Linked DNA regions of Homo sapiens. The protein of the gene in region 1 interacts with the protein of each later gene in a biochemical or structural test. Each region holds a gene or a part of one and is shown in the gene's direction. Other genes may lie near its edges.

Evidence for each region.
Region 2: the proteins of TRPV4 (region 1) and TMOD3 interact in a test that uses a peptide from one of them, tested with the Homo sapiens proteins (one large-scale study listed by BioGRID).
Region 3: the proteins of TRPV4 (region 1) and ARHGEF10 interact in a test that uses a peptide from one of them, tested with the Homo sapiens proteins (one large-scale study listed by BioGRID).
Region 4: the proteins of TRPV4 (region 1) and IFFO1 interact in a test that uses a peptide from one of them, tested with the Homo sapiens proteins (one large-scale study listed by BioGRID).

What each region holds. Positions count from the first base shown.
Region 1 is NC_000012.12:109,788,399-109,791,898, reverse strand, and holds part of TRPV4 (transient receptor potential cation channel subfamily V member 4), read left to right. Parts: intron 1-3,156; coding exon of another isoform or gene 3,157-3,182; coding exon 3,183-3,499; intron 3,500-3,500. UniProt on the Homo sapiens protein: Non-selective calcium permeant cation channel involved in osmotic sensitivity and mechanosensitivity. Activation by exposure to hypotonicity within the physiological range exhibits an outward rectification.
Region 2 is NC_000015.10:51,912,939-51,916,225, forward strand, and holds the end of TMOD3 (tropomodulin-3), read left to right. Parts: 3' UTR 1-2,787; downstream 2,788-3,287. UniProt on the Homo sapiens protein: Blocks the elongation and depolymerization of the actin filaments at the pointed end. The Tmod/TM complex contributes to the formation of the short actin protofilament, which in turn defines the geometry of the membrane skeleton.
Region 3 is NC_000008.11:1,952,926-1,956,033, forward strand, and holds part of ARHGEF10 (rho guanine nucleotide exchange factor 10), read left to right. Parts: intron 1-3,108. UniProt on the Homo sapiens protein: May play a role in developmental myelination of peripheral nerves.
Region 4 is NC_000012.12:6,546,043-6,549,542, reverse strand, and holds part of IFFO1 (non-homologous end joining factor IFFO1), read left to right. Parts: intron 1-58; coding exon 59-67; intron 68-693; coding exon 694-875; intron 876-997; coding exon 998-1,118; coding exon of another isoform or gene 1,119-1,382; coding exon 1,383-1,478; intron 1,479-3,500. UniProt on the Homo sapiens protein: Nuclear matrix protein involved in the immobilization of broken DNA ends and the suppression of chromosome translocation during DNA double-strand breaks (DSBs).

The sequences.
Region 1 (3,500 bases):
TTGCCTCCCAACAAGCCTGTAAGCTAAGTGCCTTTATTATCCCCTATTATAGAAAAGGAAACTGAGGCTTAGGAGGGTTAAATAACTAGCACAAGTTCAAAAGCCAGTGAATGGTGGCCGGGCGCAGTGGCTCACATCTGTAATCCCAGCACTTCAGGAGGCTGAGGCGGGTAGATCACTTGAGGTCAGGAGTTTGAGACCAGCCTGGCCAACATGGCAAAACCCCGTCTCTACCAAAAAATACAAAAATTAGACAGGCATGGTGGCGCGCAACTATAGACCCAGCTACTCGGGAGGCTGAGGCACAAGAATCGCTTGAACCCAGGGGGTGGAGGTTGCAGTAAGCCAAGATGGCACCACTGCACTCCAGCCTGGGCAACACAGCGAGACTCTGTCTCAAAAAAAAAAAAAAAAAAAAAGCTGGTGAATGGCAAAACTGGAGTATTAGCTATTGCTACAAAGGAAGCCACCTAAAGTGGGGCTTAAAATAGCACCCACTTATTATTATTATTTTTTTTGTGGCAAGGTCTCACTCTGTCACCAAGGCTGGAGGGCAGTGGTGCTCTTGGCTCACTGCAATCTCTGCCTCCTGGGTTCAAGCGATTCTCTTGCCTCAGCCTCTCGAATAGCTGGGATTACAGGCGTGTGCCACCACGCATGGCTAAGTTTTATATTTTTGGTAGAGATGGGGTTTCACTATGTTGGCCAGGCTGGTCTCGAACTCCTGACCCCAAGTGATCCACCCACCTTGGCCTCCCAAAGTGCTGGGATTACAGGCGTGAGCCACTGTACCAGGCCAACTTACTATTGCTTATGAGTCAATGGGTCAGCTGGGTGGCTGTGCTGCCCTGGGCCAGGTTTGGCTGATCCCTACAGGCTCTTGTGCCTGTGGTCAGCTGGCAGGCTGGCTGCTGGCTGACTGGTCTAGCTAGTATGGACTTGGTTAGAGGGGGTTTGCTATCTATCTTCCACATGGTCACTCATTTCTGGACAGCTAGCTTGGGCTTGTCCACATGGTGGCCTTAGGGTTCCAAGAACATGAGCAGAAGTGTTCAAGGACACCTCCTGGCATGGCATCACTGCTGCCTTACTCTGTTGGCCAAAGCAAGTCACAAGGCCAGCCTCGATTCAAGGGATGGGGAAATAGACGCCACTTCTTTTTTTCCATTTTTTTTTTTTGGTGGAGGCAGGGTCTTGCTATGTTGCCCAGGCTGGTCTTGAACTCCTGGGCTCAAGCAGTCCTCCTGCCTCAGCCTCCCAAAGTGCAGGATTATAGGCGCGAGCCACTGCACCTGGCCTAGACTCCACTTCTTAGTGGGAGAAGCTGTAAAGCCACATTGAAGGAGGATGGATACATGGAAGGATAAAATTTAATAATTAAACTAGCAGCCCAGGTATTTTCTTAAAGCCCAACATCAGCTCCCTTGATATACCTTCTTCGTGATGTCATGATGCCACTAAGAAGCATTCTGGGACCTCAGTGGCATGGGTCATGGGAGAAGGACCAGGGACCAGGGCTGGAGAAACTGACCAAGTCCTTGGGCTGATCCCCGAGGTGTGGGTAATCTGACATCAATGCCCAGCATCCAAAGGGGAATGGCCAACTCAGGTTAGACCTGGACACATACACATCTGAGCAGGTTCATCTGGGGACGAGCCTGGCACAGGAATCTGACAAGGGTGATATTTTAACCCACGATAGTGGCCAAGTCTCTAGGTAGATTATTGGTGGGAAGTGGAATTGTAGTTTTCACTGGGGAGATAGGGACAGGGTACAGCTTTCCCTTCCCAGGGATCACACTGGACAAACTAGACAGTGTCAAGGGTTCAACAACAGTTTGGGATTCAGGTCAGGGATCTAGCCCTACTGCAGTCCTAGTTATTGAAACTAAGGAGAAACAAGGGTTAGAGTAGCAGCTTAGCAGTCAGCTTGGTTGCAGGTCTTCTCCTTATAGGATGCACTAGATCTCAATTCTGAGGCTGACATGACATAAACAGGACACACATGCTTCTGTTCCCACACTTTGGTGTCCATAGCAGACATCACTAATGGATCACAGAACAGTTTTTCCGGTGAGTCCAGACAAGGTCTCAGAATCCTTCTCAACACAGTGTTTCACCAGGTACTATACAACTGAAGAACATTAGCATATGAGTTGAAATCTGCATACTCTAATCCCTGGTTGCAGGCAGTATGACATTCTGTGCCCCACTGACTGATGGGACTGAGTCTTCTTCATGCTCCCCTCCCTGGCTGGTTTAGGGACAGGTTGTTGCTGCCAAACTGTGTTGAGAAGGAATCTGAAGCTCCACCTGGGCTTAGTAGGAAAGGAGAACCATGATGAGTTTGAGATGTCTAGAGCAGGAGAGGCCCCTTAGAGAACACGGCTTTGGGGACAGTCAGGACTGATGCCTGGTTTCAGCCCCCACTTTTCCTCTCTGGGTTGGGGTGGAGTGGGAAACTGTCAGAGAGAGAGTCTACCCCTGCGAATAGGGGCATTCCAGAGCCCCCAAGACCTCTAAGAATGGTAGGCCGCATTAGGATTTCCCAACACTATTGACATTTGAGACCAGATCATTCTTCGTGGCGGGGACCATCCTGTGCATTGTAGGGTGTCAGGCAGCACCCCTGGCCTCCACCCACCTGATGCCAGTAGCACCCCCACCCCCAGTTGTAACAACCAAATATGTCTCTAGACATTGTCAAATGTCCCCTGGTGGGAAAAACTGAGACCCTCCCTGGACTAGATCCTGAAAACCTTTTCCCTCCCGGTAGCAGGGAACCACCAGGTTGTGTAAGGAGGGGTGAACTGTCCCAGGTTGGAAACAGAGCAGGTCAAAACTCCTACGCTTATCAGTAGTGGGATTGAGCCTGTGAGTAGCCACTGCACTCCAGCCTGGGCAACATAGCAAGACCCCATCTCAGAAAGAAAGAGAGAGAGAGAGAGATAACCTCTTCCTTATCAGCAAGAGTTTATGGAAAGGCTTCAAAGGTTTTGGGATCAGGAGGACCTGGGTCTGGTGTGGCTTGGCTGATGTGTAGGGTGACATGGGTCAGCGTGTGGGCCAGCGTGCTCCGCTCACTAGGCCTCAGCTTTCTCCTCCAGCAAATGAGAATGACACCCTCCACCTCTCTGTGGGTGTGCTCACACTCAGTGAGTGCCACCCCTATCCTCCCACAGCCCTGGTCTCCCTCCTGAACCCGTGTGCCAACATGAAGGTGTGCAATGAGGACCAGACCAACTGCACAGTGCCCACTTACCCCTCGTGCCGTGACAGCGAGACCTTCAGCACCTTCCTCCTGGACCTGTTTAAGCTGACCATCGGCATGGGCGACCTGGAGATGCTGAGCAGCACCAAGTACCCCGTGGTCTTCATCATCCTGCTGGTGACCTACATCATCCTCACCTTTGTGCTGCTCCTCAACATGCTCATTGCCCTCATGGGCGAGACAGTGGGCCAGGTCTCCAAGGAGAGCAAGCACATCTGGAAGCTGCAGG
Region 2 (3,287 bases), on another chromosome or scaffold:
TTTTTAAATTGAGAAAATAGTATTCAGAGGCAAAGATTTTTATATTCTTTTTTGAGACCAAGTCTCACTCTGTCATCCAGGCTGGAGTGCAGTGGTGCGATCTCAGCTCACTGCAGCTTCCACCTCCCAGATTCAAGTGATTCTCCTGCCTCAGCCTCCCAAGTAGCTGGGATTACAGGCGTCCGCCACCACGCCCGGATAACTTTTTGTATTTTTAATAGAGACGGGGTTTCACCATGTTGGCCGGGCTGTTCTCAAAGTGACCTCAGGTGATCCACTCGCCTCGGCCTCCCAAAGTGCTGGGATTACAGGCTTGAGCCACCACACTCAGCCTTATTCTTATATTTTAATTTGGTCATTCTTAGATCTACAGATTGAACATCCCTAATTGAAAACTTTTTGAGTACTAACATAGTGTTCAAAGGAAATGCTTATTGGAGCATTTAGAATTTCAGATTTTCAGATTAGGGATGCTGAACTGGTGTAATGCCCAGTATTCCAAAATCCAAAATAATTTGAAATCTGAAACACTTAATGGTCCCAGCATGTTGGATAAGGGATACTCAACCTGTATTGATTTTTCTCCACTATAATTCAGTTCTATAAGTTCTTCCCTATAAAAAATGAATGAATTAGAAATTTGATAATAAAACATATTTTATTAATTTTAAACTCTATCTTGCAGTCTGATCATTCAGAAAGGTCAACCTAGAAAAAAGACATGGCTAAGTAAACTATTTTAAGCCATAACTAAGTATTTTGGAAAGCCTTCATTAACACATAAAGAATTTTGGCCAAGTACTGTGGCTTATGCCTGTAATCCTAGCACTTTGGAAAGCCGAGGCCGACGGATCACTTGAGCTCAGGAGTTTGAGACCAACCTGCGTAACATGGTGAAACCCCATATCTACAAAAAGTACAAAAATTAGCTGGGTGCGGTGGCGCATGCCTGTAGTCCCATCTACTCGGAAGACTGAGGCAGCAGAACCGCTTGAGCCTAGGAGGTGGAGGTTGCAGTAAGATGAGATCATGCTGCTGTACTCTAGCCTGGGCAATGAGAGTGAAACTCTTATCTCAAAAAAAAAAAAAAAAAAAGAGCTATACTCATAGTACTTTGGGAGACCAAGCAGGGAGGATTACTTGAGACCAGGAGTTTGAGACTACCATGGACAACATAGCAAGACCCCATCTTTACAAAAAATTTAAAAATTAGCCAGACACCTATAGTACCAGCTACTTAGGAGTCTAAAGTGGGAGAATTGCTTGAGCCTGGGAGGTTGAAGCAGCAGTGAGCTTTGATCATGCCACTGCATTCCAGCCTGGGTAACAAGAGTGAGACTGTCTCAAAAAACAAAACAAAACAAAAAAATGGGTTTTTTTGTTGTTGTTTTTGTCTTTTACTTAGGACACCTGCTCTAGAGGCTAGATAAAAATAGATTGTAATGGCCGGGTGCAGTGGCTCACACTTGTAATCCCAGCACTGTGGAGGCTGAGGTGGGCGGATCACTTGAGGTCAGGAGTACGAGACCAGTCTGGCCAACATGGTGAAACCCCATCTCTACTAAAAATACAAAAAATTAGTTGGGCGTGGTGATGCGCACCTGTAATTCTAGCTACTTGGGAGCCTAAGGCAGGAGAATCACTTGAACCTGGGAGGCAGAAGTTGCAGTGAGCCGAGATTGTGCCATTGCACTCCAGCCTGGGTGACAGAGTGAGACTCCATCTCAAAAAAATATATGTATTAAGAAATACCACCAGCAGTGTTTTGCTAACATAGCTGTAACAAATTATTAAGTTCTTTTTTTTTTTTAAGATGGAGGTTCACTCTTGTCGCCCAGGCTGGAGCGCAATGGTGCGATCTCAGCTCACTGCAACCTCCGCCTCCTGGGTTCAGATGATTTTCCTGCCTCAGCCTCCTGGGTAGCTGGGACTACAGGTGCCCGCCACCACGCCTGACTAATTTTTGTATTTTCAGTAGAGACGGAGTTTCACCATCTTGGCCAGGCTGGTCTCGAACTCCTGACCTCGTAATCCACCCGCCTCGGCCTCCCAAAGTGCTGGGATTACAGGTGTTTGCCACCGCGCCCAGCCCAAATTATTACATTCGTAAGACAGACACCTCTTAGAATCTATATATATGAGGTTTTACTCCCTTTTCTACACTCAGTATGTTTTAATTGATGCAAAGCAATTAATTGGCCTAAAATGTTTCAAATATTATAGTCTATACATTCAGAAAGTAAGGTTTAAGAATGAATTATTGGTGCTTCTTGGTGGGTGTATATAGCAGTTTTTAGAAGTTTAAATTTCACCTCTACTCAGAAAGATAAGCTTTTGATTCAGTGGTTTCAAATTTTCAGATCAATCCATTTAAGAATTGTTTTTTCAAATGTATATACACGTATAACATAAAAATTTTTGTAATTTCAAATGTCTTTTTTTCAGTTTTTTGGATGAATTATTATATTTGGTTTTAGTTACATTTAAAAGCTTGAAAATTACCTTTCTAACAATCATTTGAATGTCATTCATTGTCACATGAAATCAGGTATTTACGTTTTTTTCTAATGCTAAAATATCCAACATTGTAATTGCCCTATTTTTCCATTTTTATAAGTATAAAAGCAATGAATTTTAACACTGGTATTTAAATAATACAAAATATTATCCAAATTCATAACAGCACAGTGAAGTTTCTTTTGAAGACTATGTACTGGAAGCATTTAGAACTTACCAATATATACTGGGATAAATCGTTTCAATAAAGTTTATCAAATATTCTGTAAACTTGGACTTTTTGAAAAAGCACATAATCCCTTTAGTTCCTAAGTTCTAAAATTCATTCCTTACATCCTTCTTCAAGAAAAAGTTTATCAGTTTCCCTGAGTTATTCAGTCCTACCTGTTATGGACTGAATGTTTGTATCCACACCCGCCCCCCCACCCCAAATTCACATGTTGAAGCCCTAACCTCCAATGTGATGGTATTTGGAGATGGGGCCTTTGGAAGGTAATTAAGGCTAGATAGGGTCACAAGGTTGGTCCCCTTATGATGGCATTTGTGTTCTTATACAAAGAGACAGGAGACTCTCTCCATCATGTGAAGATACAGCAAAACAGCAGCTGTCTGCAAGCCAGGAAGGGAACCCTCACCAGGAACCAAACCATGATCTCGGACGTCCCAGCCTCTAGGAACGTAAGCAATAAATTTCTGTTATTTAAGCCACCCAGTCTATGGTATCTTGTTAGGACAATCTGACCTGGCTAAATACCACCATATTAAGTTGA
Region 3 (3,108 bases), on another chromosome or scaffold:
CAATTCATATTATCTGTGGTTTTTCAGTGTATTATAATGACTTAATAGACTGTTTAATTGGAATTATCAATTTATATATTTTTCCATTTTTTACCTTAGTAGTCCAAGGAGAATCTTATGTTTTTATATTCTGTTTACTGCCAGAATTAGTTTCCATCATTCCTTTCTGTGTTTTATATTGTGGAGAAGGAAGCCGGGATCTCCGTTGTTCCTTTGTGTGTTTTATATTGTGAAGAAGGAAGCCGGGATCTCCGTCATTCCTTTCTGTATTTTATGTTGTGAAGAAGGAAGCCGGGATCTCCGTCGTTCCTTTCTGTATTTTATATTGTGAAGAAGGAAGCCGGGATCTCCGTCATTCCTTTCTGTATTTTATGTTGTGAAGAAGGAAGCCGGGATCTCCGTCGTTCCTTTCTGTATTTTATGTTGTGAAGAAGGAAGCCGGGATCTCCGTCTTTCCTTTCTGTATTTTATATTGTGAAGAAGGAAGCCGGGGATCCGAAAAGGCTCCATTGTGCTATTGCAATGTCAGTAAGAGCTCAGGCTGGAACACATGGCCTTTCTGGACACAGTCCCGTTAGGGATTGGAGGCCTTAAAACATGCTTGTGTGTCTGGAATCAGGATTCCCAATCCAGGGAATTGGCCCAGGAAACAGCCTAAGCTAGGAACAAAGTATGATGCAAGAAGACATTTGCCACAGCATTTAATTTTTAACAGCACGAAACAGGAGGTGACCCGCAGTTCGTAATGACGGATTGGGCCATTTAATAAAATGGTGGCATTGCCGGTAATGGGTAGAACACAGCCAGCAGAAGTGGTGTGTGCAGAGCCTGCAGTGACGCGGAAAACTCCTCGTCCTGTTAAGTTCAGTAAACCACAGCCTTAGATTCTATGTGGGTTACTATGTCAGCCAGGGGGAAATACTAACAGAGAAAACGCTTTGCAGGAAGCTTGTAGAGCAGAACTGTTCCTACGGGCTCCATTTCTGTGATTTCCTCCCAGGCCGACCTGACGGTGGCTTCCGTGCACTCAGATTTTGGCAGGTCCACCCACAAGGATTAAGGAATTCTAGTTTTGCCATTCATTTCCTAATTTATGTTTTTATTATGATATATGGGATTGTACATGTTGAGGACCCCAAATCCAAAAACAAAATGCGAAATGCTCCAATTTTTTTTTTTTCTTTTTGAGACGTAGTCTCACTCTGGCACCCAGGACGGAGTCCAGTGGCACAGTCTCGGCTCACTGCACCCTCTGCCTGCCAGGTTCAAGCTATTCTCCTGCCTCAGCCTCCCTAGTAGCTGGGATTACAGGCACCAGCCACCATGCCTGGCTAATTTTTGTATTTTTAGTAGAGGTGGGGTTTCATCATGTTGGCCAGGCTGGTCTCGAACTCCTGAACTCAAGTGATTCGCCTGCCTTGGCCTCAGATGCTCCAAATTCTGTGTCGACGTGATGCTGAAAGGCAGTGCTCATTGGAGGAATTCAGATTTTGGATTTCAGATTTGGGATGCTCAACCGGCAAGTGCAATGCAAATATTCCAACATTAAAAAAAAAAATCCAAAACACTTGTGGTCCCAAGAATTTCAGATAAGTGACACTCAGCCTGTAAATACATAGAATTGTGCATAACGCACAGTTTCACAGTTTAAATGGTAACGAGAAGAGGCCACCTGCCTGTGCCCAGGTCAGAAGGGGCTGTGACTCACACACTGAGCCTCAGCTGCCCCTTCTCAGCCTCAGCCCTCTCTGCTCACAACCCTAGGAAATGATGATGCTGAGTTTTACGTCAATTATTCCTTTGGTCCTCCTCTGTAGTTGTACCAATTTGTATCTTAAAGGGTACTTTTCACCTTTCCGGCTTTTGCATTTTCCTAGCTGTCCCATGGTGCAAGCAGCCTCTGTTGCTTTTTCTCTCAGCCTTGCTGGGGTCAGTCCCTGCTGGTGCCACAGCTATAGTGCTTTCCTCTCCCTGCCTGCAGCCTGCCTCTGAAAGGAGGTGCCCTCATTGCCTCTGGATGGATAGCCAGGTGCTCCCTGAAAGGAGGTGCACTCTCACTGTTCCTCTGGAGGATAGCCAGGTGCTCCCTGAAAGGAGGTGCACTCTCACTGTTTTTCTGGATGGGTAGCTAGGTGCTCCCTGAAAGGAGGTGCACTCTCACTGTTCCTCTGGAGGATAGCCAGGTGCTCCCTGAAAGGAGGTGCACTCTCACTGTTCCTCTGGAGGATAGCCAGGTGCTCCCTGAAAGGAGGTGCACTCTCACTGTTTCTCTGGATGGGTAGCCAGGTGCTTCCTGAAAGGAGGTGCACTCTCACTGTTCCTCTGGAGGATAGCCAGGTGCATCCTGGAAGGAGGCACACTCTCACAGTTTCTCTGGATGGGTAGCTAGGTGCTCCCTAAAAGGAGGTGCACTCACTGTGTTTCTCTGGATGGGTAGCTAGGTGCTCCCTGAAAGGAGGTGTACTCTCACTGTTTCTCTGGATGGGTAGCTAGGTGCTCCCTGAAAGGAGGTGCACTCTCACTGTTTCTCTGGATGGGTAGCTAGGAGCATCCTGAAAGGAAGTGCACTCTCACTGTTTCTCTGGATGGGTAGCTAGGAGCATCCTGAAAGGAGGTGCACTCTCACTGTTTCTCTGGATGGGTAGCTAGGTGCATCCTGAAAGGAGGTGCACTCTCACTGTTTCTCTGGATGGGTAGCGAGGTGCTTCCTGAAAGGAGGTGCACTCTCACTGTTTCTCTGGATGGGTAGCTAGGTGCTTCCTGAAAGGACGTGCACTCACTGTGTTTCTTTGGATGGTAGCTAGGTGCTACCCATTTGCATTACACATCAAGCCTCTGTATATTTGTGTGGCTGGCTCTGCTGACATGGGCAGAAGCTCCTTCTGGGGGCTTGCCCAGGGGCAGCATCGCTGGTGTGCAGGGATCACAGGTGTGTGCTTCGCCAGGTGATGAGCGGGCCTGTCCCTGCACAGTCCCCCCAGCTCCTGCTCCCTGCAGACTTCACTTTGCCACTCTCCTCTTTGGGAAATGGACTCTCACCACGGTGGAAGATTCAGTGATGTCATTTGCCTTGGCCAGAGTAGGATGATGGTGAGGGCTGGGGCCTGT
Region 4 (3,500 bases), about 100 Mb from region 1:
TCCTCTGTCTGCTTCCTCTCCTCTCTTCCTCTCATCTTCTCTCTTGCTTCCTCCACAGAAGAAGCTGGTTAGTTTGATCTCACGCAAGCTTATTAATGTCCCAGTCCCAGTTTCTAAGCTGCCTAGGCCTCCTGGCCCTCAGTTTGGGCCCGCTGGGCTCTTGAGCACGGATTTTTTTCTGCCCTTTCCCTTTTCCTTGCTCTTCCCCCTTTTTCTCTCTATCTCTTGTTCTCTTGACTGCATTTCTTTCTCTCCCTTCTCCCCCGGCTTTCCAGATCTGGATGTGATTCAGGTTCTCTTTTGTACACATTGCACACTCATCCTCCTTGCGTCCTAAAGCTTTTTTTTTTTTAGTTGAGTCATTTAATCAAAAAGACTTTTTTTAGAAAAAAATTTCCTCTTGAGCCATCATGCACATCTGACTGCAGCCCCAGCGAGCCCTTCCTTCCTTGTCTGACTGCTCTTCTTCTCGATTTCTTCTTGTTCTGCCTTCTCGGTTTGCAGCCCTGACCCCCGCTGTGTGTCTGGCCCTTGGTGACTGTCCGTGTTTCTGTTCCTGTCATTGTAACTGTGACTTTTCTCTCTGTCTGCCCCCCCTTCCTACTGGTTCATGCTTCTCCCCCATTCCCACCCTCTCTGCCCGGCCTCCCGCTCCCGCCCTTTCTCCTCATGCACCCGGCCTCGTCTCTGTAGTCTCTGCACTTGTCTCCCATTAAGGTCCCATCCATGGGGGGGCGGAAGCGGGAGCGCAAGGCTGCCGTCGAGGAGGACACCTCCCTGTCGGAGAGTGAGGGGCCCCGCCAGCCCGATGGGGATGAGGAGGAGAGCACAGCCCTCAGCATCAACGAGGAGATGCAGCGCATGCTCAACCAGCTGTGAGTCCGCAGGCCGTGCTCCCGCAGCACCGACGCCACAGCAGCCCAGGAGGCCGGAGCTCCCCAGTCCCCCGCCAGGACGAGGCCCCGCCCGCCCTGACACCCGGGTTCCCTGTCTCTAGGAGGGAGTATGATTTTGAGGACGACTGTGACAGCCTGACTTGGGAGGAGACTGAGGAGACCCTGCTGCTTTGGGAGGATTTCTCAGGCTATGCCATGGCAGCTGCAGAGGCCCAGGGAGAGGTAACCTCTGCTCCCGGCCTCAGGGCCCTCTGGCTCTGCCTCTCCAGCCTGAAGCCCACTCCCCCGCTCCTCTCCTTGCTCTGTCCCCCCATGTGGCTGTCATCCTCTACCTGCGTCTCCCCTCTTCCTTTATCCTTTTGCTTTTCTTTCTCCAGTTTCTTTAACCAGACTTCCTCTCTCTCTCTCTCCCTGACTTGGCCCTTTGGAATGCGTCCCATCCCATCCCTCCTTGGCTGGCCTCCCCCGCTTCCCTTTCTACTCCAGCAGCAGGAAGATAGCCTGGAGAAGGTGATTAAAGATACGGAGTCCCTGTTCAAAACCCGGGAGAAGGAGTATCAGGAGACCATTGACCAGATAGAGGTAAGGGCAGGAGCGGAAGCCAGGGGCGTGGTGTCCCAGAGGGTTTTGAGTGGGGCTGCAGGCGCAGTGGCCTCATCCCTGCTGCAGGACCCTAGAGACCAAGGTCTTGGGAGGAGGAGTGATCTCTCAGCTATAGTCCTCCTGGTGGGCTCTGAAGACCTCAGGCTCTGGAAACAGACAGATATCGGTTCAAATCTCAGCTCTGTTACTTACAACCACCCTGAACTTGTAATAAGTTACTTGTTCCCTCTGAGCCCCTCCTTTCCTTTCCTTTCCTTTCCTTTCTTTCCTTCCTTCCTTCCTTCCTTTCTCTCTCTCTCTCTCTTCCCCTCCCCCTCTATCCCTCCCTCCCTCTCTCCCTTGTCTTTCTGTCCTTTCTTTTTTGAGACAAGGTCTCACTCTGTTTCACTCTGTTGCCTAGGCTGGAGTGATCCTCCCACCCCAGCCTTCTGAGTAGCTGGGCCCACAGGTGTGTGCCACCATACCCAGCTAATTTTTATTTGTATTTTTTTGTAGAGATGGTGTCTCCCTGTGTTTCCCAGGCAGGTCTTAAACTCTTGGGCTTAAGTGATCCTCCTGCCTCGGCCTCCCAAAGTACTAGAATTAGAGACATGAGCCATGTGTCCAGCCCTACACCTGTTTCTTTTTCTTTCTTTCTTTCTTTCTTTCTTTTTTTGAGACAGGGTCTTGCTCTGTCACTCCAGGCCCACTGCAGCCGTGATCTTCTGGATCCAAGCAATCCTCCTACCTCAGCCTCCCAAGTAGCTGGGACCACAGGCGTGTGCTACCACGCCCGGCTAATTTTTTGATTTTTTTTACAGAGAACAGGGTGTCACTATGTTTTCCAGGCTGCCCTCAAACTTCTGGATTCAAGCAGTCCTCCTAACTCGGCCCCACAAAGTGTTGGGATTACAGGCATGAGCCACTGTGCCGGGCCTTTTTATTTGTAAAATGAGGAATTTAATAATACCTCACCTATAGGGTTGTTTAGAAGATCAGATGAAATAATGCATATATAGAGCTTAGGGCAGTGTCTGGCTCATAGCGAGTGTAGCATAGTGGGGACTGTTTTATTATTATTAACACTATCAGTGCCATGGCACTCAGAGATGGACTGGGACTTTCCTGTTTCTTCCACTCAGCCTTTGAGATAACAGAGAAATCTCCATGCTTTTTCCCAAGCCTTGAAGTACCTTCTAGAGGTACCTAGAGGCAAGTGGAGCTGGTGCTTTAGCTCAAACTCTAGGCTTTAGGAGCTGCAAGAAGGATTTGTGGAGGCCGGGCGCGGTGGCTCACGCCTGTAATCCCAGCACTTTGGGAGGCCGAGGCGGGAAGATCACGAGGTCAGGAGATCGAGACCATCCTGGCTAACACGGTGAAACCCCGTCTCTACGAAAAATACAAAAAAAAAAAATTAGCTGGCCGTGGTGGCAGGCACCTGTAGTCCCAGCTACTCGGGAGGCTGAGGCAGGAGAATGGCGTGAACCCGGGAGGCGGAGCTTGCAGTGAGCCGAGATCGCACCACTGCACTCCAGCCTGGGCGACAGAGCAAGACTCCGTCTCAAAAATACAAACAAAGGAAGAAGGATTTGTGGAACCACAGAATGGAGGTTGCTGTTGCTGTGGGAGGAGGGATGGACGGGACCCCCGTGAGCTCTCCTGGCCTGGTGAGGTGGTCCTTTCCCGACGCTCTGACTTTGGGAGAGGCATGGAGCCTTCTCTGCGTCTCAGCCTCTCTTCAGGCCCACATGGGAGATTCATACGTAGTCCCCCCTTATCTTCAGGGCATGTGTTCCAAGACCCACAGTGGATGCCTGAAACCAAAGATAGCACTGACCTCCTGATAGCTTGGGTCCAGTTGCTGTCAACTGGAACGTGTTTCTGTTCATGTCTCCCACCCACACATTCAATGCCTTTTCTATCTTAACTAAGCACTTAGCGTGCGCTGTGGCGGTACCTTTTGCAGTTCGAGGTGTGACAGCAAAACTGGCACAAATTTCTTTTTCCTTCTTTACAATTTCA